Linked DNA regions of Homo sapiens. The protein of the gene in region 1 interacts with the protein of each later gene in a pairwise test. Each region holds a gene or a part of one and is shown in the gene's direction. Other genes may lie near its edges.

Evidence for each region. The genes of interacting proteins can lie anywhere in the genome.
Region 2: the proteins of ZNF655 (region 1) and CCDC179 interact in binary tests that used the Homo sapiens proteins (3 or more experiments, as listed by UniProt).
Region 3: the proteins of ZNF655 (region 1) and DEUP1 interact in binary tests that used the Homo sapiens proteins (3 or more experiments, as listed by UniProt).

Annotation. Positions count from the first base shown.
Region 1 is NC_000007.14:99,567,939-99,576,021, forward strand, and holds part of ZNF655 (zinc finger protein 655), read left to right. Parts: intron 1-3,749; coding exon of another isoform or gene 3,750-3,854; intron 3,855-4,306; coding exon 4,307-5,646; 3' UTR 5,647-8,083. UniProt on the Homo sapiens protein: Probable transcription factor.
Region 2 is NC_000011.10:22,849,902-22,857,984, reverse strand, and holds part of CCDC179 (coiled-coil domain-containing protein 179), read left to right. Parts: coding exon 1-63; intron 64-1,332; coding exon of another isoform or gene 1,333-1,350; exon of another isoform or gene 1,351-1,370; intron 1,371-8,083.
Region 3 is NC_000011.10:93,368,232-93,376,314, forward strand, and holds part of DEUP1 (deuterosome assembly protein 1), read left to right. Parts: intron 1-1,841; coding exon 1,842-1,955; intron 1,956-2,806; coding exon 2,807-3,049; intron 3,050-8,083. UniProt on the Homo sapiens protein: Key structural component of the deuterosome, a structure that promotes de novo centriole amplification in multiciliated cells.

The DNA of each region.
Region 1 (8,083 bases):
ATTGCAGCTACCCAGGAGGCTGAGGCTGGAGAATCGCTTGAACCCGGGAGGTGGAGGTTGCAGTGAGCCAAGATCATGCCATTGCACTCCAGCCTGGGCGACAGAGCGAGACTCCATACCCCCCGGCCAAAAAAAAAAAAAAAAAATTAAGTACCTGCCTTGTGCTAGTTACTTTAATATTTTGGAAAGAATAGCAAGCGATATGAGCCATAGACCAGATTTTTTAATACAAATAAAAATTTCAGGAGTGTGTTCAAATTATTTATTTATAGTGGAGTTTCCTCAAATTTATTATTGTTTGGACTATTGTCTAGGGATTTGGATTTTTTTTTTTTTTTTTGAAATGGAGTCTCCCAGGCTGGAGTGTAGTGGCGTGATCTCGGCTCACTGCAACCTCTGCCTCCCGGGTTCAAGCGATTCTCCTTCCTCAGTCTCTCGAGTGGCTGGGACTACAGGCACCCGCCATCACGCCCGGCTAATTTTTGGTATTTTTAGTAGAGACAGGGTTTCACCGTGTTAGCCAGGATGGTCTCGATCTCCTGACCTTGTGATCTGCCTGCCTTGGCCTCCCAAAGTGCTAGGATTACAGGCGCGAGCCACCGTGCCTGGCTGGGGTTTGGATTTTTATTGTAAAGGATTTCCATTTCCTTGATAATAAATCATCTTTTAGATCCCTTTTAATTTTTAATTTTAATTTTTTGTAGAGATGGAGTCTCACTATGTTCCCCAAGCAGGTCTCAAATTCCTGAGCTCATGAGATCCTCCTGCCTTGACCTCTCAAAGTGCTGGGATTACACGTGTGAGCCACCATGCCTGGTCCATAGATCCTCTTGATTCGTTTGTTGGTTGATTGACTGACTGACTGACTGACAGGATCTCACTCTCACCCAGGCTGGAGTACAGTGGTGTGATCTTGGCTCTCTGCAGCCTCGGCCTTCTGAGCTCAAGCGATCATTCTGCCTCTGCCTCCCAAGTAGCTGGGACTACAGGCGTGTGCCACCATGCCTGGCTAATTTTTGTATTTTTTGTAGAGGTGGGATCTCACTATGTTGCCCAGGCTGGTCTCAGACTCTTGGGCTGAAGTGATCTGTCCGTCATGGCCTCCCAAAGTGCTGGGATTACAGGTGTGAGCTTCTGTGCCCAGCCATAGATCCCTTTTAATTAACACTTCTGCGACTCCAATTATTTAGGATCCTGGTTCACCGTATGTTATTCTAATCACTTTTTCTCTGTTGTTTGTATTTACCTTTTACTTCACTGTCAATATTTTATAAATCATATTAGAAAACTCAAGATTTAAATAAAATCAAAAAGTTTTAATACATTAATTTTAAACAGGAAAAATGTAAATAAAGCAAGTGCATATTTTGAAAGCAAAGTTTTGAGTTAAATTTAGGAAATAGGCATTTAGGCTAGTGCCAAGAAAACTTACACGTTCTTTCTGTGTGTAATTTGGAGGAAGGGATGGATTTTGTTCACAGTCATTATTTATTTTTTTTCAGGGCTTGTTAGGAGGCAAAATCATAATTTTTTTTTTACTAGCAGATTGTTTAAAGGCTAGGTTCTGAAATAAGACTGTGCAGGTTTGAAAACTAAGCATTACCAGTTATTGTAACCTTGGGCAAGCTACTTAACCACTCTGAATCTTAGTATTCCCATCTGTAAAATGGCTATAATAATAGTTTCTACGTTTTAAATTTATGGTATTAAATGAGTGAAAACCTAGAGAGCTCTTGGCATGGTACTTTGCACCTACCAAGTACTTAGTAAAACTTAATAATATTTTGATGGTACTGATGATACCCTGTTCTCTCTTCTAAACTGTGATATTGTATCTTTACCTGCTAGGCATTTTCTCTTTTAAAAAAAATTATTTCAGTAGTTTTGGGGGCGTACAAGTGGTTTTTTGTTACATGGATGAATTCTAATACATAGTGGTGAATTCTGAGATTTTAGTGCACCTGTCACTGGAATAGTGTACATTGTACCTAATATATAGTTTTTTATCCCTTGTCCCTTCTCCCACCCTTTCCCTTCTTAGTCTCTGAAGTCCATTTTATCACTCTGTATGCCTTTGCGTACTCATCTGCTGGGCATTTTCTCTTATACCTTCGTACATTACATTAAACACACATCTAAAATCAAACCCCTCATCCCACATGAAGACCACCTTTTTTGTTGTGCATATGTGTTTTAAGTGTAGATATGGAGTAAGCAGCCAGAATTTATTTCAGTTACCAAATATCGACAGACACTTTAAATATCTCAGAGTTAAAAGTTGCAAATTATGTTATTGGAATTCTGAGAACAATATTGATTGCTGCTTCATGTTACACTAACTTTACTTTTTAAACTTCTGAAACGATTTCATTTGACAGGGTGGACCTTAATTAAATATATGTCCACAAGGAGAGTTGACTCTAAATGTCCCACAGGATTTCAGAAACACAGTAAATACCTTTCTTCTATCTATTCTGATCTCCTTGCTCATAGGCTCTCACATGGAATCTTTGGGGCAGCTGTCAGTTCTTCATATTTTCCAGCCCCAATGCCCTTTTTATAAAATTGGGTAGCTGTTAATACATTGATACTTGGGCGCACAGAGTTGGCACTCAATAAGTAGCCGTTAAGTAAATTAATCAAAAGAATTGCAAGATACAAGATACCTGGTCCCTTCTATCAAAGAGTTTATAAATCAAGTATGAATGACAATACCTGAAACCACTTAAAAAAAAATCTATGTAAACACCGTTATATGTGACATGTCAGGATAAGAGGGAACAACTAATAAATTTTGTACACATTCAGTAAATGGAGAGAAAGGTTTTTGGAGATGAGGGGCTTGAGCCAGACCTTGTATGTGTGCTATTAGAAGCTTTCTGGGCTGGACACATTTAAAAACTGCCCTTTGATACTAATAGTATTAAAATTCTGTCTCCTTGGAAGCAGACTGCCTGTTGCTTTAGCTTTAAAAGAGATTTATATCCAAGCATTGCATTATGCAAGCCATAGAAAGACTGTTTTATGTGAAGATGCACTGATTGCACTTCCCTCTCTATATTTTATTGTAGTTAGTTGTTTAGAGCTGTCTCTGTGTAGAGTGTGAGGTCCTTGAGGGAAGGGACCTTCTTGGCCTCTTATCCCCTGCATACTTTGCATAGAGGAGGCACTTCATAAATGTTTGTTGAATAAATGCTACACTCCTAATGGGTAAGAATGTGTCATATTACTCTTTGTTTTCTTATGTGTACTGAAACAAATTGTTTCTTGAGATTGGTCCTTAGAATATTTATTCAGTTTTCACTGATTCTCTTGCTACAGGTTAGCTAACCATGCAGCAGGTGCTTGAGTTTCACCTTTCTCCAGTCCAGCAGAATTACATTTTGATGACCTCCATTTTGATACTTGTAGACCAGATCTAATCCGAAGATTAATCTTTAGGTAACAGATGGAGAGTGATAATGATAACTTCTGTGAAGACAAACCCATGCACACATTCTGTTGTCTGAATAATATTTAAATGAATCCTTCTGCTCCCAAGTCATCAACTTGCCCCTTAACACACATCCCTCTAGAGCACAAATCTGAGCTCCTTGTAGATCTTTGCCCTCTTCACTCTCCAGACCTTCCTAATTAATGTCTTCTCAGAATCGACCTTCTGTCTCTCTTAATCATTAGTTAAAAGAAAAAGTGGCAGATGTAGGACCTGGGGATACATTGCCACATCCCATTTCCTTCTCTATGAGCAGGATTTCCAATTTCCAAGCCTGATGGGATCTCCCAGCTGGAACAGGATCTACAGGTCTTTGATCTGGAAACTAAGACTAGAGAAGTCTTAAGAGATGACTGCTCAGGTGAGTAAGGCAGAATCAGATAGAATTAGTAGGGAAGTAAAGTTCAATTGTTGAGCCAAGTTGTAGCTGCTTTGGCACTCAGAATGAAGAGCTCTGTGTGTGTCCTAGCATGGAGAGTTCCTTCCTTTTCCCTTCAGTTAGGTTGACCCTTTCCATTTGTTTAGTATCCGTGCACATGTCGTACTAGACCCCAATCAAGTTGCTTATCTAAAATTCTTTCAGCTGTTTCCCTATTATTTCCTTACTCTGCTGAACATGTCCGCTGTTTTACCTCACTGCTCCTGTTTATGCCCTTAACTTCTGCTGTTGAGATTTTGTGCCTGTTTTTCAGAGTAAATAAACTTTTCTTGTCCTTGTAGATACTACATTGTTTAGTTTTCTCATCTGAGTTTTCTTTTCCTAAGCACAGGGTACAGATTACATTTGCATTTTCTATTTATATATTGTATCAGATGGAGAGACCAGAGAAGAGAACAAGCTGTTGATTCCTAAGCAGAAAATTTCGGAAGAAGTGCATTCATACAAAGTGAGAGTAGGAAGACTCAAACACGATATTACCCAAGTTCCTGAGACTAGAGAAGTGTATAAGTCTGAGGACAGATTAGAAAGACTTCAGGAAATTCTAAGGAAATTTCTGTACCTGGAGAGAGAGTTTAGGCAAATAACAATCAGCAAGGAAACCTTCACCAGTGAGAAGAACAATGAATGTCATGAACCCGAAAAAAGCTTCAGTCTGGACTCTACTATTGATGCAGATCAGAGAGTTCTTAGAATACAGAATACCGATGACAATGATAAGTATGACATGAGCTTCAACCAGAATTCAGCCTCTGGTAAACATGAACACTTAAATCTAACAGAGGATTTTCAGAGTAGTGAATGTAAGGAAAGCTTAATGGATCTCTCCCACCTTAATAAATGGGAGAGCATCCCTAACACTGAGAAATCCTATAAATGTGATGTATGTGGGAAAATTTTCCATCAGAGCTCAGCCCTTACTAGACATCAGAGAATCCATACTAGAGAGAAGCCCTACAAATGTAAAGAATGTGAAAAGTCTTTCAGTCAGAGCTCAAGTCTTAGTCGACATAAAAGAATACACACTAGAGAAAAACCTTACAAATGTGAAGCATCTGATAAATCCTGTGAAGCGTCTGATAAATCCTGTAGTCCAAGCTCAGGCATAATTCAGCATAAGAAAATTCACACCAGAGCCAAATCTTACAAATGTAGCAGTTGTGAAAGAGTCTTCAGTCGTAGTGTCCACCTTACTCAACATCAGAAAATTCACAAAGAGATGCCCTGTAAGTGTACTGTATGTGGCAGTGACTTCTGCCATACTTCATACCTACTTGAACATCAGAGGGTCCATCATGAAGAGAAAGCCTATGAGTATGATGAATATGGGTTGGCCTATATTAAACAACAAGGAATTCATTTCAGAGAAAAGCCCTATACGTGTAGTGAATGTGGAAAAGACTTCAGATTGAATTCACATCTTATTCAGCATCAAAGAATTCACACAGGAGAGAAAGCACATGAATGTAATGAATGTGGAAAAGCTTTCAGTCAAACCTCATGCCTTATTCAGCATCACAAAATGCATAGGAAAGAGAAATCGTATGAATGTAATGAGTATGAGGGCAGTTTCAGTCATAGCTCAGATCTTATCCTGCAACAAGAAGTCCTCACCAGACAGAAAGCCTTTGATTGTGATGTATGGGAAAAGAACTCCAGTCAGAGAGCACATCTAGTTCAACATCAGAGCATTCATACCAAAGAGAACTCATGAATGTAATGAAGATGGGAAGATATTTATCAAATTCAGGCTTCATTCAGCATCTGAGAGTTCACACCAGGGAGAAATCATGTATGTACTGCATGTGGTAAAGCCTTCAGTCATAGCTCAGCCATTGCTCAGCATCAGATAATTCACACCAGAGAGAAACCCTCTGAATGTGACGAATGAAGAAAAGGTATTAGTGTTAAACTCTTAATCGACTCCTGCAAATCTATACCAGTGAGAAATCTTACAAATGTATTGAATGTGGCAAATTTTTCATGCTATTAGTATTTTCATACCTTAGTCACATTTGGAGAATTCACATGGGAATAAAATTCCATTGCTGCAATGAATGTGAAAAAGCCATCAGTCAAAGAAACTACCTTGTTTAGTATCAAATTCACGCCATGCAAAAAGATTATAAATGTAATAAGCATGTATGTGTGTGAGGAGATTCAGTCATAACCCAACGCTCATTCAACATCAAAGAATTTATACCTAAGAGAACTTATTTGGGTGTAGTAAATGGCAGATCTTTCAATAGGAGTTTAACTAGTCTTTGTCATATCAGAATATCCATAGTAGACAAGAATTTGATGTAACGCAAATGGAAAAACTCGACACCACATTTCAGGCTTTACCCAACATCGAAATAATGGAGAGAAAATTGTTGATTATTTGTTTATGAAATTGTTAATACATAGTCCCAATCTTTTTCATTGCACAAAAATCTAGGGTTGACTTGGTAAATGCAGTGACATTTTCTCATGGAGTTCCTTTATTTAATATGTATTCTAAGTAGGTACGTTTATTTTTACTTTTTTATTATAATTTTGATATTAAAAAGAACAGAGATGGGGTCTTGCTTTGTTGCCCAGGCTGGTCTTGAACTCCTGGCCTCAAGCGATCCTCCCACCTGTCCTCCCAAAGTGCTGGGGTTACAGGCGTGTGTCACTGTGCTGGGCCTATTTTATTTATAGAACTCATTTAAGCTGTTTTTATTTTAATATGCCCTATAAACATTTTTATATTTTTTGAAATTGGTTCTTAGTGTTCACAACTTCCATAAGATACTGCTAATGCACCAGTATTAAAACACATCGACGTAAGTAGCTCATTTAGCTTTTTCTGCTGTTCTTGGCCCAAGTTCTTTCCAAAACCAACTCTTAGGCCTGCTCTTTACTAGGGATCTTATGTCGTATTGCTTTACAGCCACAACACTTGGATTCCTGTTGATTAACTTCTCCATTCTCTTAAGCACCTTTAGAAGATTTAGAAGTTTCCTAGTTTTAAGTGTTTCACCAGCAAGTATTCCATACCTACTTGATGTTGCTGGTCTGGTGTCTTATTTCCTAAAGTGAAGCATCTTTTTTTAAAAAAGAATTTGATTGACAATATATCCAGTCCAATATAAGTATGAAGGATTCTCTCTCCTGAGATTGTAGCAGGCAGCCAAACATTTTCAAATGATGCCCAAGGTTTTAGCTGTCTTGTGTGCATCCACAGTCTGCGAAGAAGACATGATAAGGACATCAGGGAGCCAACAAGACTCCTAATAGCCTCACTACATTCATCCAGTGCCTATTCTGCATGCCTAAGCTTAGAGTTCTTTTATATACCTCTACGGCCAGCAAAATGCTCAGGTCTGCTCTTGGTAGGGTAAACATAAAGAAGATACACAGGCCGGGCATGGTGGCTCACACCTGTAATCCCAGCACTTTGGGAGGCTGAGGCGGATGGATCACGAGGTCAGGCAGTCGAGACCATCCTGGCCAACATGGTGAAACCCCGTCTCTACTAAAAATACAAAAGTTAGCCGGGTGTGGTGGCACGCGCCTGTAATCCCAGCTACTCAGGAGGCTGAGGCAGGAGAACTGCTTGAACCTGGGAGGCGGAGGTTGCAGTGAGCCGAGATTGCACCACTGCACTCCAGCCTGGGCGACAGAGCAGGACTCTCTCTCAAAAAAACACAAAAAAACAAAAACAAAAAACCATACACACACACACACACACACAAATCAGCATCATAAGGGAATGTAGCCTTCCAACAGAGATGATGCTGTTCGTATGTTAATCTCAGAGACAGTATTTCAAGAGAGTGGCAGGTCTGTTCCTGGTAAAATTTTAACCATTAGGATTGCAGATAAATGTTTGAATTCTGCTCCTCTCTCATCAATCCAGGACAGTATTTGAAGTGTGAGGGCTTTGTGTATAGTTGTTTATCCATTACCACATTTTTGTATTTTAATAGTCTACAGGCTATATAAAAGAACATGGCTTTTTGACTGATAAAAGTGATTACAGATGTTGGCTCAAGTTCAGGGCCACCATCATATACCTAACAAGAGTTCATGATTCTTTAGGTAATGTCAAAACATTTTGTATTTTTCCATCTTAAGCTTTATAACATTTTGTGAGTAAGACAAATGTTATTTAAAATTCTTGT
Region 2 (8,083 bases), on another chromosome or scaffold:
GAGAAGAGGAGACTGAATAAAAGGTTTTCAAGGCCTTCTCCTATTCCAGAACCAGGACTCCTAGTAAGTATAGAGGTTTCACTGAAATTAACAGATCATTAAATGCAACTGATATCATCATTTTAATTCATGTAATATTCACTATAAATTTTCTTTTTCCCTTTCTCTTTGAGAAATTTCTAATTTCAGTCTTAAAAGTCTTATCTCATCTATTATTTAAATATCCTCTGCTGTCATCTCCTGGAGGTGATATGGTTTAATGAAAAGAGGATTATCTTTGAAACCAGGTTGTTCTGGACTCCACTTCTTGTTTTGCCATATGTTAGATGACTACATAAGGTTAATCACTTAAATCTTTTGGCTATATATCTGAAAATTTATTGCCAAATTTAAGGTCACATTAGTTCTCTTATGTATTATCTCCTAGAAGTTTTGCAGTTGTGTATGTTACATTTAGGTTTATGATCCATAGCGAGTTAATGTTACTGAAAGGTGTCAGTGTCCAGATTATTATCATTATCATTTTCATGTAGATGTCAAGTTCTAGTACCATTTGTTGAAAAGACTATCTTTTCTCTATTGTATTGCCTTTGCTTCCTTATCAAAGATTTATTGACTATATATTTGTGTGGGTTTATTTCCGAGCTCGCTATTCTGTCTCGTTGAATCCTGTTTTTCATCAATACCATACTGTCTCGAAAACTATAGATTTACAATAAGTCTAGAAATCAGGTAGTGTCAGTCCTCTTCTGTTCTTTTCCCTCAATGTTGTGTTGGCTTTTCTGGAACTTTTCCCTTTCAATATAAAATTTAGAATCAGTTTGTTGAAATCTACAAAGTAACTTGCTAGAATTTTTATTGGGATTGTGCTGGATCCAAAGGATCAGTTTGGAAATAACTGATATCTTAACAATATTGAGTCTTCCTATAAATTAACATAGAATTTCTCCTATTTATTTAGATCATCTTTTTTACCTGAGTTTTATAATTTTCCTCATCCAGATTTTATACATATTTTCTTGGATTTATGCCTAAGTATTTTATTTTTTGTTGCTAATATAAATGGGAGGCTGTTTTTCACTTTGCATTCAAATTGTTCATTGCTGGCATAAAGGAAATCAATTGAATTTTCTGTATTAAACTTACATCCTCTAATCTTACTATAATTGTTTATTACTTCCAAGAGTTTTTTGTTTGTTTTTTATTGTTATTGTTGATTCTTTGAGATTTTCTACTTAGTCAGGTCGTCTGTGAACGAAGACACAGAACAATTTATTTCTTTCTTCTCAAACTGTATAACATTTATTTCCTTTTTTTGTCTTACTGCATTAGCTATGTCTTCCATTATGATGTTGAACAGAAGTGAGAAGGTACATTTTTGCCTTTTTCCTAATATTAACTGAAAAAAATCTGGTTTCTTGACAGTGACTATAATGTGAGGTTTAGGTATTTTAGAGATGTTCCTTATGAAGTGAAAGACATCCCTCTCTACACCTAGTACTGAGAGCTTTTATCATAAATGGGTACTGGATTTTGTCAAATTCTTATTATACATTGTTGATATGATCATATGATTTTTCTCCTTTAGCCTTTTGACGTGATGAATTTCATTAAATAATTTTAAGATGTTGAAACAGCCTTACATTCTTGGGATAAGTCTCAGATTGTGTATAATTATTTTTACACATGTTTGGATCAATTTGCTAATATTTTGTTGAGAATTTTTACATCTATGTTCATGAGAGGTATTGGTCTGTCATTTTCCTGTCTTTTAATATCTTTTTCTGGTTTTGGTATTAGGGTAATGCTCACCTTACAGAATGAGTCAAGAAGTATTCCCTCTGCTTCTATTTTCTGCAAGATATTGTAAAGAATTAGTAGTTTCTTTTTTAAATGTTTGGTAATCAGTGAAACCATCTGGGTTTAGTATTTTCTATTTTGAAAGATTGGTAATTATTAATTAATTTTTTAAATAGATAATAACCTTATTTAGATTATCTATGTCTTGTGTGAATTTTAGTAGATTGAATCCTTTTTAGATTTAGTCAGTTTTATCTAAGTTTTCAAGTTTATGAGCATAGAGCTATTGGTTATGTTCTTTTATTATTCTTTTAATGTTCATGGGATTGGCAGTTATGGTCTCTTATTTATGATGTTAGTAATTTGTGTCTTTTTTGGTTAGTCTGGCAAAAGTTTATCAATTTTACTAATATTTTCAAAGAATTATATTTTGGTTTCATTAATTTTCTCTATTGCATTCTGTTTTCAATTTCACAGATTTCTGCTCTAGTTTTTATGTCTTTTCTACTGCTTACTTTGGGTTTAATTTGCTCTTCTTTTTCTGGTTTCCTAAGGTGAAATCTTAGACTATTGAGTAAAGAGCTACTTCTTTTCTAATATATTAATTTAATGCTATAAAATTTCTCTAAGCATCACTTTCACTATATCCCATAAATTTTAATAAATCATATTTTCGTTTTCATTTTGTTCAGAATATTCTAAATTTCTTTTGAAACCTCTTCATCGATCTATGTGCTAGTTGTAAGTATGTTCTTAATTTCCAAATATTTGAGGAATTTCCAGTTATCTTTCTTGTTATTGGTTTCCAGTTTAACTCCACTGTGGTCTGAGAACACACTTTGTATGATTTCTATCCTTTTAAATTTGTTAAAGTATATTTTAATGACATTGAATGTGATCTGTCTTGGTGAATGTTCCATGTGTCTTGAGAAAACTGTATTCTGCTGTTATTAAAGTAACTATTAATGTCAATTAAATCCAACTGACTGATGGTGCTGTTCAGTTCAAATACATTCTTACAGATTTTCTGCCTGCTAGATCTGTCAATTACTGTTAGAAAGAATTGACATTTCCAGCTATGATAGCAGATTTGTCTATTTCTTCTTGCACTTTTATCAGTTTTTGCCTCACATATTTTGACGTTCTGTTGTTAGGAACAAACACATTAAGGATTACTATGTAATTTTACCCCATTATTATTATGTAATGTCCCTCTTTATCATTGATACTTTTTCTTGTTCTAAAGTCTTGTTTGTCTGAAATTAATAATGCAACTTCAGCTTTCTGTTGATTACTGTTAGCAATGTATATCTTTCTCCATCCCTTTGACACCATCTGCCCTTATAAAGTGAGTTTCTTGTAAACAACATACAGTTGTGTATTGTATTTGTATTAACTCTGACAGTCTTTGTCTTTAAGATCATTGACATCTGAAGTGATTATTGATATAGTCGAATTAGTATGTGCCTTATCTGTTACTGTCTTTTAGTTGTGGACTTGTTTTTACTTGCATTTATGCCATTTACTTTTCCATTCTTCTTCTGCATTCTCTAGTTTTGAGCAATTCATATTATTTAATATTCTCTCCTGTCTTAGCATGTCAATTATACTTGCTTTATTTTATTTTTTAACTTTTTCAGTGGTTTCCTTTGCATTTGAACTATACATTTATAATTTGTTCAAGTTCACTTTCAAATAACACTATACTACTTTATGGGTAATGCAGTTACCTTTTGACATAGTATTCCCATTCCCCTTTTCTTATTCTTCATAACATTATTGTCATTCACTTGTCCATAAAATATAAACAACACATACATTGTTGCAATTATTATTTTGAACAAATTATTATTTCTTAGATCAGTTAAGAATAAGACAGATAAAATATTTTATTTTACCTTCTTTTTTTTCATTTCTAATGCTCTTCCTTTAAGTACGTCCAAGTTTCTGACTTACAACATTTTCCTTTTCTCTGAAAACTTCTTAACTATTGCTGTGTGGGCAAGCCTACTAGTAACAAATATTCCTTCTGTTTTTGTTTGTCTGAAGAAGTCTTTTGTTCTCTTTCACTTTGGAAGGATACTTGCACATGATACAGAATCCTAGGTTTCTGCTCTTTTTCTTTGAACACTTTAAATATTTTACTCCATTCTCTTATTGCTTGCATGATTTCTGTAAAGAAATCCTATGTAATTGTTGTTATTCATGTTCCTATTTAAGTAAGCTATCCTACCACTTTCCCCCAGCTTCTTTCAAGATTTCATTTTTGTCTGATTCTTTTGCAGTTTAAATTTCATAAGTCTAGATGTAGACATTTATCTGGTGTTTATCCTGCTTTGTGTCTTATGAATTTTCTGAATCTGTGGTTTGTTGTCTATCATTAACTTTAGAAGGTTCACATCTATTATTATGTCAATATTTATTCTGTTTCTCCTCCTTCTCTTCCTTCCTTTCTTCTTCCTTCTTCTTTCTTCTTCTTCCTCTTCCTCTTCATCCTTTTCCTCTTCCTCTCCTCCTTCCTTCTTTTTTTTTCCAATTGTACATATTTATACTTTTTGTAATTGTTGCTCAGTTCTTGAATAATGTATTCTATATTTTTATACTTTTTTCTCCTTACCGTTAGTTTGGAAAGTTTCTATTTACATATCTTTAAGCTAATTAGTTTTTTTCCTCTGAGTTCAGTGTATTAATGAGCCCATCAATGTCATGCTTCATTTCCATTAAAATATTTTAGACTTTTAGTGTTAGTTTGATTTCTTCTTAGATTTTCCATTTTGCCTTGTATTACCCATCTTGTCTTGCATCATGTCCACTTCTTCTATTAGAACTTAGCATATTTGTCATAATTATTGTAAGTTCCAAGTCTGATAATTCTAAAATATCTGCTATTATCTGAGTCTGGATCTGATTGGTGCTTACTTTTTCACTTCAGATTGTTTCTGCCCTTTAGTGTGTCTTGTAGTTCTTTATTGAAAGCTGGATATGATGTATTGGGTAACAGAAACTAAGGAAGACAAGCTTTTAGTGTAGGTTTTATGTTTATCTGACTAAGATTTAGGCTGCATTTTCTGTTTATTTGTAACTGTGATATCAGAGGGTAAAATTTCCCCTGATTCAGTTTTGTCTTCCTCCTTATTTTTGGTCTTGCTAGGGACTCTTTCTTAAATAATATCTGAAGCTTGCAATTTTTTAAAGCTGGAATCCTCTGATATATACAGGAGACTAATTGATGTGTTGGTAAGTTGTAGGGGAAGAAGGGTTCCATAGCCTATGATTAGGATTCAGTCTTTAAGTGAGTCTGTATCTATAACTGCCCAGTGGGTTCATTTTGCACACTACCCAGATAGAGCCAATTTATCAAGACAGGGGAATTGCAATAGAGAAAGAGTTTAATACACATAGAGCCAGCTAAACAGGACACTGGAGCTTTATTATTACTCCAATCAGCCTCTCTGAAAATTTGGAGGCTAAGCTTTTTCAAGGATAGTTTTGTGGGCAGGGGCCTATGGGAATGGGCTGCTGGTTGGTTGGGAATGAAATCACAGGGGTATGGAAAATGCCTCCTCATGAGGTGAGTCCACTTCTGGGTGGGGACCACAGGACTAGTTGAGCTAAGAGTCTTGGGTCCATGTGGGGCTGCCTGGTCATCAGAAATGCAAAAGCCTGAAAAGATATGTGAAAAGGTCAATCCTAGTTTCTACAATAGTGAATAGGGGAAGTTGCAAATCTTGTGACCTCCAGAATAATGGCTGGTAATCACTTGACTATGCCTGCATCTTAGCAGAATTCAGGCCACTCTCATCCTCCTAACCTTGTGGCCTTTCATTAGTTTTACAAAGGTGGTTTAATTTTGGGGAAGGGCTATTATTAAACTATAAACTAAATTTCTCCTATAGTTAGCTTTGTCCATGCCCTGGAATAACCAAGGGCAGCTGGGAGGTGAAAGGCAAGATGGAGTTGGTTAGAACAGAAGTCTTTACTGTCATAATTTTTCACTGCAAGAGCAGTTTCCTATCCCTGGGATGTAAATTTCACAACTTCTTCTTTGCTATCATCCCTGTTAGGTGAGATAGGAAAGCTATAGGGAACAGGAGTTGTGTATTTCCTTTCCCCTAAGTCACTTAGAATTTGGTAAAACCCAATTTATTTAGGCTCTGCTAAAATAGTTTCTCTTGAGAGCATGCTCTGGTAAAGAGAACGGAGAGCTCTGACATATTTTTAAATGATTACTTCTCCCCTTTCACTACTAGAAGCAAAAAAAAAGATTGTTCTCTGATCCTTACAGTGAGATCTAGTGAGGCTCCTGGAGGTAAAATTTAGGAAACTATGGGAGCTTCCCTAAGACTGTCCTCTCTACACCCAGAGTTTTTAATTAAAGCTCATGCATACTGAGCCTCCAGCCATTCATCAGATAAAGTTGACATGTTCCCACTGGTACTGGCCTTAGCAGAAGGATTTTGTTCCTGGCAAGCTCTGATTCTCCACATCCACTTGTCTGTCTCTCTGGTTTTCAGGGCAGCAGCTTGCCCTGTGCCCTCACTTCTCTGATGAATGTAACAAGATTAATTGCTTTTCAGATTGTTCTGCTTTTTTCTTATTGTAAGGAAGGAAGGAACAATTTGCAAGCTCTTTATATGTCAGGCTGGAAAGCTCCACTTAAATTTCTTTGATCAAAATTGTTTAACTGGCCACCCCTAGCTGCAAATAAATTTAGAGATGTGAAAAATTAAACTGACTTCCTTGCTGCCCTGAAGAGAATAGAGGTACCATTAGCATGGAAGAAAGTACTTTCCTTCCTTTTTCAGACTGTGAGGATTATCTTTCTGTAACTTCCTCCTTTCTGAGATTTTGGAGTAAATTTATATTATGAGTAAAAGTTCAACCCATTGGCTTTGTTTACCATTTGTTTTTGCATAATGAAGGGAACTTACACATTGCCATACAGAAACCCAGGACCATCAACTATACACAGTTATTGTTTTGCCTTAACTATCAACAAAGCTCCTCCCTTGCTGATATACCAGTGTTTATAACCCCAACCCCATAATCTTTGTCTCTCTTTTAAGCATTAAAATATGCCTATGCACAGGAGAATGGCGTGAACCTGGGAGGTGGAGCTTGCAGTGAGCCAAGATAGCACCACTGCACTCCAGCCTGGGTGACAGAGCAAGACTCCATCTCAGCAAAAAAAAAAAAAAAAAAAAAAAATATATATATATATATATATATATATATATATATATAGCCTATGCAACATATATTTTCCCCTTCCAAGTTATCTCTTAGTATAACGTATCATAATTTGAGATATAGGAAAGAAAAGAGAATTATTCCTGGGTCTACCTTTCTATAGTGTAAGACAATTGCCACCATTTCTGAACCCTGTACCTCTTGATTCATTTACACACAGTTATTTTGGTTACTCTTTCTATCCCTTTGTCATTTCAATATCTAGTACCATCAATCTTGTTTTCTTCCATGACTTGGCCCTTAACAAACCATCTAAGGTTTTTAATTTCAAAAGCTCCCCTTTTTAACTAAAATTAGAACTACCATTTGATCCAGCAATCCCACTACTGGGTATCTACCCAGAGGGAAATAAGTTGTTATATTAAAAAGACACTTACACATGCATGTTTATAGAAGTGCAGTTTGCAATTGCAAAAATGTGGAATGAGGCTAAATGCACATCAAACAACCAGTGGATAAAGAAAATCTGGTATATGGATAAAATAGAACAGCCATAAAATGGAACAAAATAATGGCATTCGCAGCAACCTGGATGAAGTTGGAGACCATTATTCTAAGTGAAGAAACTCAGGAATGGAAAATAAAATATCATGTGTTCTTGATACAGGAGTTAAGAAGAAATTACTTAGGCAGATAGTAAGGGTATGGAAGTCCTTGTTAAGGTTTTCCCTTTAATGAAAAGCAGCTCCAAATCATTTTCCTCCTAACAAAGGGCAGCCTATAAAATCGAGCTGCAGACATAGATGCTGGCCATTGTACCAATCATGTTCAAAATGACAGCTCCATCTTCCCTTCTCTGCCAGCCACGTGTATAGTAAGAAGCAGAGAAGATGGCAATGGCCAAGGGGTAAGTTCATCTGCATAAGAAGATTAGAGTGAGGTGGCCAGCCTTCCCTGCATGCTATGTAAACATCATACCTGAGTGAACCAATCTGTGAGCCCTATGTAAATCAGACGCCTCCTCAAGCCTGACTATAAAATCTGTCGCCTCCACCACCGGCCCGTCTTTCCTCTCAGGAATCTCCTCTCTCTC
Region 3 (8,083 bases), on another chromosome or scaffold:
AAGTCACTGTCTTAGTTAGTTCAGGCTGCTATAACTAAATACCATAGACTGGGTGGCATAAACAACAGACATTTATTTTTCACAGTTCTGGAGGCTGGTAGTCCAAAATCAGAGTGCCTGTGTATTAATCCATTCTCACACTGCTATAATGAACTACCTGAGACTGGGTAATTTATGAAGAAAAGCGGTTTAATTGACTCACAGTTCCACAGGTTGTACAGGAGGCATGGTTGGGGAGGCCTTGGGAAACTTAGAATCATGGCAGAAGGCAAAGGGGAAGCAAGGCATGTCTTCACGTGGCCAACAGGAGAGAAAGAGAGAGAAAAGGGGGAAGTGCTACACACTTTCAAACAACCAGATCTCATGAGAACTCTATCAAGAGACAGCACTAGGGAGATGGTGCTAAACTGCTAGAAACCACCAGGCTGGGCGCAGTGGCTCACGCCTGTAATCCCAGCACTTTGGGAGGCTGAGGCAGGCAGATCACGAGGTCAGGAGTTTGAGACCAGCCTGACCAACATGGTGAAATGCTGTCTCTACTAAAAATACAAAAAATTATCCGGGTGTAGTGGCACGTGACTGTAATCCCAGCTACTCAGGAGGCTGAGACAGGAGGATCACTTGAACCTGGGAGGTAGAGGTTGCAGTGAGCCAAGATCGTGCCACTGCACTCCAGCCTGAGCAACAGAGCGAGACTCCATCTCAAAAAAAAGAAAAAAGAAAAAAAAGAAACCACCCCCGTGCCCACCAGCCACCCCCCAACACACACACACACTCGGGATCACAATTCAATGTGAGATTTGGATGGGGACACAGAGCCAAACCATATCCCCCAGCATAGTCAGATTCTGGTGAGGGCCCTTCTCCTGGTTCACAGATAGCTGTCTGCTCTTTGTATCCTCAGATGGCAGGGAGAAAGAAAGAGAGAGGAAACAAAATCTCTCATAGCTCTTCTTATAAGAGCACTCATCCCATTCATGAGAGCTTCACTCTCATGACTTAATTACCTCCCAAAGGCCCCATTTCATAATGCTGTCACTTTGGGGTTTAGGCTTGACATATGTATTTGTTGTGGGGGACACAAACATTCAGTCCTTAATAGTCACTAAATAAGTCCAAGCCCCACCCTCTAAAAAAACAAGAGGAGAAATTTGGCAACTGAGTGAATGAAGGAAAAAATATTTCGTGTCAAGAAATAGAAAGAAAGTAGTGGCAAATGCAAAAAAAAAAAAAAGTTGTTTGAAATTCCCTTATTAGTAATAAGTATTTGTTATAAGACAGACTTTTTACATTTTTAACAATAAGTGACAAATTCTGTATTTTCCTAGCAAAAATTAGAGATGGTAAAAAATCCAACATGAATGATTTGACACCTTTTCTTTTGTTTGTTTTCCCTAATAGGTAAAGAATGGATTTACGGCCGGGCGCGGTGGCTCACGCCTGTAATCCCAGCACTTTGGGAGGCCGAGGCGGGCGGATCACGAGGTCAGGAGATCGAGACCATCCTGGCTAACACGGTGAAACCCCGTCTCTACTAAAAATACAAAAAATTAGCCGGGCGAGGTGGCGGGCGCCTGTAGTCCCAGCTTCTCGGGAGGCTGAGGCAGGAGAATGGCGTGAACCCCAGGGGGCGGAGCCTGCAGTGAGCCGAGATTGCGCCACTGCACTCCAGCCTGGGCGACGGCGAGACTCCGTCTCAAAAAAAAAAAAAAAAAAAAAAAAAAGAATGGATTTACTTTTTTTTTCTCAGAATGAAGATGTACAAATGAAAGAAGCCTTATTTGCTGTACTTTAAAATGAATAACATTTTTAAATATGTTTGTCTCCCCACTTTTTAAAAGGAATTTAGAGCAAAGTCAAGAGAATGGGACAAGCAAGAGATATTATATCAGACTCATCTGATTTCTTTAGATGCTCAACAAAAATTATTATCTGAGAAGTGTAATCAGTTTCAGGTAAGTTATCTAATACTATTCTCTAAATCAAAAGCAGAAGTTAAATATTGGTATCTTTACCATTCACCAGTAATCTATTTACAAACAGACATGCCAACTAAGAAAAAACGAGAGTAGGTCCAAAGGTGGGTACAGTCACAAGTGCATAGAATATCTGTTAATGGTGAGTTTAGTCTACATGTCTCAAAGGATGGAGCTATTTAAAATTCCATTGTTATTGTGTCATTAAATAGCATATGTTTTTGCATGCCTACAGGCAAGGCACTCAAAGAATTTACGATTGCTTGCTTTACTTTGTATTTCCCTGGCTACTTGTAAGACTGAACATCTCCTCATATACTTTTTAGCCTATCTCAGGTCTTTCTGTGAATTGCCTATTCATAAACTTTGCCCATTTTTCTTTTGCATTGTTTGCCCTTTTCTTATTGATGTGTAGAAGTGTTTGTACACTAGGAATTATTAACTCTGTTACATGCATTGACAACTTTTCCCCTACAATCAAATTGTTTGTTTTTATTTATTTTTGGTTATAGACTTTTTTCAACCATTGTATAATTGAATTTTTTACACCTTCTAGATTTTTTTTCTTGCTTAGTATGGCTTTACTACCACTAACCTCCTTCTCTACTCTACATCTTTGCTCTGAGGTTATACAAATATATTTTCTCTATATGCCATCTGAAATTGAAATTTTAAAACAAATATAAGACTGAATTACAAAGACCCAACTTTCATTATGTAGTAACATATTTAAAGATATTCCTACTAATTCTTTTCTATCATTCTTGAACTTCATGTAAGCTTAAATATGACATTCTTCATTTGAGTTACACAGTTTTTATATTTTTCAGAAACAGGCACAAAGTTACCAAACTCAACTAAATGGTAAAAAACAGTGCTTAGAAGACAGCAGCTCTGAAATTCCTCGTTTGATATGTGACCCAGATCCCAATTGTGAAATCAATGAAAGAGATGAGTTCATTATTGAAAAACTGAAATCAGCTGTAAATGAGATAGCACTAAGCAGGAATAAATTACAAGATGAAAATCAGAAGCTCTTGCAAGAACTGAAAATGTACCAAAGACAGTGCCAGGTGAAGATTAATTTTTTTTCAACTAATATTGTCCATGACTTGTATAAATGGTAACACATATAGAGATTAGAATGATTAGAATGGTAGTTTTCTATTATTAATATATGTGAAGATTCCATTCATATTTCCTCTTAGTAATTCGCACTTGATGCGTAGATTCAATAATCCCATAAGTATGTTACCACACTTAGAGTGCACTTTGGTTCTGCGGTGGCATAATAATAATGTATTACCAGTGCAATATAATAGTGGTCACTTACGGACCTCTATGCCTTTAGCCATGTACTACCCTCTTCCCCCACTATTTTCTCTTACCCTGTGTTTCTTTGACTCAGAAGAATCCTGGGTTAAAGATACAGGAAATCGTGAAGGGTTCAACAATTTAGTAACCTCAGTGAGAGCTATGGAGATGACTCCAGTGATTTATCACTGGTAATCTTATCATAATCATTTATCAAACAGTAACCTAGAATTTATTTTTAGGTAACTTTCACATTGACAAATATGATTGATGGTTTAACAAGCATTAATTTTTTTTCTTAACTGAATAATGTTTTTTTCTTTTTTGTCTATTTCTTGCAACCTTTAGGAAGGTTATACAGCATTCATCAAAATTGGTCATTACCAATTTCTTTACAAAATATGTATTTCTTTTTTTTTTTTTTTGAGACGGAGTCTCGCTCTGTCGCCCAGGCTGGAGTGCAGTGGCGGGATCTCGGCTCACTGCAAGCTCCGCCTCCTGGGTTCACGCCATTCTCCTGCCTCAGCCTCCCAAGTAGCTGGGACTACAGGCGCCCGCCACTACGCCCGGCTAATTTTTTGTATTTTTAGTAGAGACGGGGTTTCACCGTTTTAGCCGGGATGGTCTCGATCTCCTGACCTCGTGATCCGCCCGCCTCGGCCTCCCAAAGTGCTGGGATTACAGGCGTGAGCCACCGCGCCCGGCCCAAAATATGTATTTCTTATTCATCAGTACTTGAGACGTTCTTTTATCTCCCATTTTAGGTTTTTTCTCCCACCTCCAAATATTCAGCCTGTTTCTATCACTTCCTCCATGACAGTTGGCCGATATCTTTTCCCCACTCTATTCCCTCGTCTACCTAGCATACATGATTGAGGTAAGGTCACTGCCTGAGAACTTCCATTTCATTTCCTTGAGATATACCACCCCAAGATCTTTTGCCACTTAAACTCCCAGGGTCATTTCTTAGTCCTCAGCCAACTCCTCATTCCCCCACCGTGCCACATCATATTTGGGATTATATAGGGAGTTAGTCCTTTAACTTCTTTCTCTGCCAGCATCTACTGTTCTATGTTCCTCTTTCCCCATGCTTGGTAAGGGACAGAATTCAAGGCTCCCAGTCTCTCCCATTCAGAGGCAATTGTAAGACATACATATTCCCCACTTCAAACTCCAGCTTTAAGGAGGGAGGTCTTATTCTAATACAAGTTAGAATACAGATGTAAACCAATAAAGAAAGCTAATCTACAAACACTAAATGCAGAGGAAGCCAGAAATAGTCTGGAAATAGCAAAGGTATTGATGGTGTTTTCTCTGGCTTCATTCTAATATAAATGAGGTTAGCACTCATTCATCTGCTCTAGAGGGTGCCTAGGGGCTTCTAAGTGCTTAGCATCAGCCCACCTCCGACTGTCTGAGCTGTGTTTGCATGACTGCGGGTCATGCAGTGATGGGGTCTTTCCTTCTCAGAGGCTGCTGCCTTTTGCTTCGCTAAGTATATGACAACTGGTCATGCTTTCTATTTAAAGGCAACCTATACTTACATTTTGCAGCTGTCTTTGTACTGCTGGAATCTGCATCAGAATCACATTCAGTAAATAAGAAAATTGTTGTTCTTGGTACTTCCCAAGTATTCTCCTCTAGGCTTGGGGTCATCCAGTGCCAACCAAAGCATTCTCTGCTTTGTCCCTTCTTCTTTTGGCAGGGGAACAGGTGGTGGTGGTTGGTTACATAAATAAGTTCTTTACTGGTGATTTCTGAGATTTTGATGCACCCATCACCTGAACAGTTTACACTGTACCCAATTTGTAGTATTTTATCCTTCACCACCCCCAACCCTTTCCCCTGAGTCCCCCAACATCATTCTTATGCCTTTGAAGCCTAATAGCTTAGCTCCTACTTATGAGTGAGAACGTAAGTAGGAGCAATAACAAAATGATGTTTCGTTTTCCATTCCTGAGTTACTTCACTTAGAATAATGGTCTTTAATTCCATCCAGGTTGCTGCAAATGCCATTATTTTGTTTCTTTCTATGGCTGTGTAGTATTCATATATATATACATATATATATACGTATATATATTTATATATGTATATATATACGTATATATATATATATATATATATATACGTATATATATGCCACATTTTCTTTATCCACTCATTGATTGATAGGCATTTGGGCTGGTTCTATATTTTTGCAATTGCAAATTGTGCTGCTATAAACATGCATGTGCAAGTATCTTTTTCATATAATGACTTCTTTTCCTCTGGGTAAATACCTAGTAGTTAGATTGCTGGATCAAATGGTAGATCTACCTTGAGTTCTTTAAGGAATCTCCACATTGTTTTCCTTAGTGGTTATACTAGTTTACATTCCCACCAGCAGGGTAAAAGTGTTACCTTTTCACCACAACCATACCAACATCTATTATTTTTTTGATTATGGCCAGTCTTGCAGGAGTAAGGTGGTATTGCATTGTGGTTTTGATTTGCATTTCCCTGATCATTAGTGACGTTGAGCATTTTTTCATGTGTTTGTTGGCCATTTGTATATCTTCTTTTGAGAATTGTCATTCATGTCCTTAGCCCACTTTTTGATGGGATTGTTTGTTTTTTTCTTCCTGATTTGTTTGATCTCCTTATCAATCCTGGATATTAGTCCTTTGTCAGATGCATAGTTTGTGAAGATTTTCTCCCACTCTGTGGGTTATGTGTTTACTGATTATTTATTTTGCTGTGTAGAAGCTCTTTAGTTTAATTAGGTCCCATCTATGTATCCTTGTTTTTGTTGCATTTGCTTTTGGGTTCTTGGTCATGAAGTCTTTGCCTATGCCAATGTCTAGAAGGGTTTTTCCAACGTTATCTTCTAGAATCTTTATGGTTTCAGGTCTTAGATTTAAGTCTTTGATCCATCTTTAGTTGATTTTTGTATAAAGTGAGAGATAAGGATCCAGCTTCATTCTTCTCCAATTATTCTTGCCAATTATTCCAACACCATTTGTTGAACAGGGTGTTCTTTCCAGACTTTATGTTTTTGTTTGCTTTGTCAAAGATCAGTTGGCTGTAAGTATTTGGGTTTATTTCTGGGTTCTCTATTGTGTTCCATTGGTTTCTGTGCCTATTTTTATACCAGTACCATGCTGTTTTGGTGACTATAGCATTATAGTATAGGGTATTTGGTAATTTGATGCCTCCAGATTTGTTCTTTTTGCTTAGTCATGCTTTAGCTATGCAGGCTCTTTTTTTGGTTCCATATGAATTCTAAGAATTTTTTTCTAATTCAGTGAAGAATTATGGTGGTATTTTGATGGGAATTTCATTGAATTTGAAGATTGATTTTGGGAGTATGGTCATTTTCACAATATTGATTCTACCCATCCATGAGCATGGGATGTGTTTCCATTTGTTTGTGTCATCTGTGATTTTTTTCAGCTGCGTTTTGTAGTTTTCCTTGTAGAGGTTTTTCACATCCTTGGGTAGGTATATTCCTAAGTATTTCTTTTTCTTTTCTTTTTTTTTTTTTTGCACTATTGTAAAAGAGGTTGAGTCTTTATTTGATTTTCAGCTTGGTCACTGTTGGTGTATAGCAGTGCCACTGATTTTTGTACATTGATTTTGTATCCTGAAACTTTACTGAATTCATTTGTCAGTTCTAGGAGCTTTTTGGATGAATCTTTAGAGTTTTCTAGGTATATGATCATGTCATCAGTCAACAGAGATAGTTTGACTTCTTTTTTACTGATTTGGATGCCCTTTATTTCTTTCTCTTGTCTGATTGCTCTGGCTAGGACTTTCAGTACTATGTTGAATAGAAGTGCTGAGAGTGGGCATCCTTGTCTTCTTCCAGTTCTCAGGGAGAATGCTTTCCCCATTCAATATAATGTTGGCTGTGGGTTTGTCGTAGATGGCTTTTATTACCTTAAGGTATGTCCTTTCCATGCCAATTTTGCTGAGGGTTTTAATCATAAAAGGATGCTGGATTTTGTCACATAATTTTTCTGTGTCTATTGAGATGATCATGTGATTTTTGTTTTTAATTCTGTTTATGAGGTGTATTGCATTTATTGACTTGCATATGTTAAACCATCCCTGCATCCCTCATTTGAAACCCACTTGATCATGGTGGATTATCTTTGTGATATGCTGTTGGATTCAGTTAGCTAGTATTTTGTCCAGGGTTTTTGCATCTATGTTCATCAGGGATATTGGTCTGTAGTTTTCTTTTTCTCTTATATCCTTTCCTGGTTTTGATATTAGGGTGATACTGGCTTCACAGAATGATTGAAGGTAGGATTCCCTCTTTCTCTATCTTTTAGAATAGTGTCAGTAAAATTGGTACCAATTCTTCTTTGAATGTTTGATAGAATTTAGCTGTGAATCTGTCTGGTCCTGGACTTTTTTGTTGGCAATTTTCATATTACTGTTTTGTTTTGTTTTGTTTTTTAAACAGTGTCTCACTCTGTTCCCCAGGCTGGAGTGCAGTGGTGCAGTTTCGGCTCACTGCAACCTCTGCCTCCCTGGTTCAAGCAATTCTTCTACCTCAGCCTCCTGAGAGCTGGGTTTACAGGTGCCTACCACCACACCCAGGTAATTTTTGTATTTTTTAGTGTATTTTTGTGTTGTTGGCCAGGCTGGTCTCGAACTCCTGAGCTCAAATGATCTGCCCGCCTTGGCCTGCCAAAGCGCTGGCATTACAGGCATGAGCCACTGCACCCGGCCTATATTACCATTTCAATCTCCCTGCTTGCTCTCGTTCTTTTCAGAGTTTCTGTTTCTTCTAGGAGTTTAAT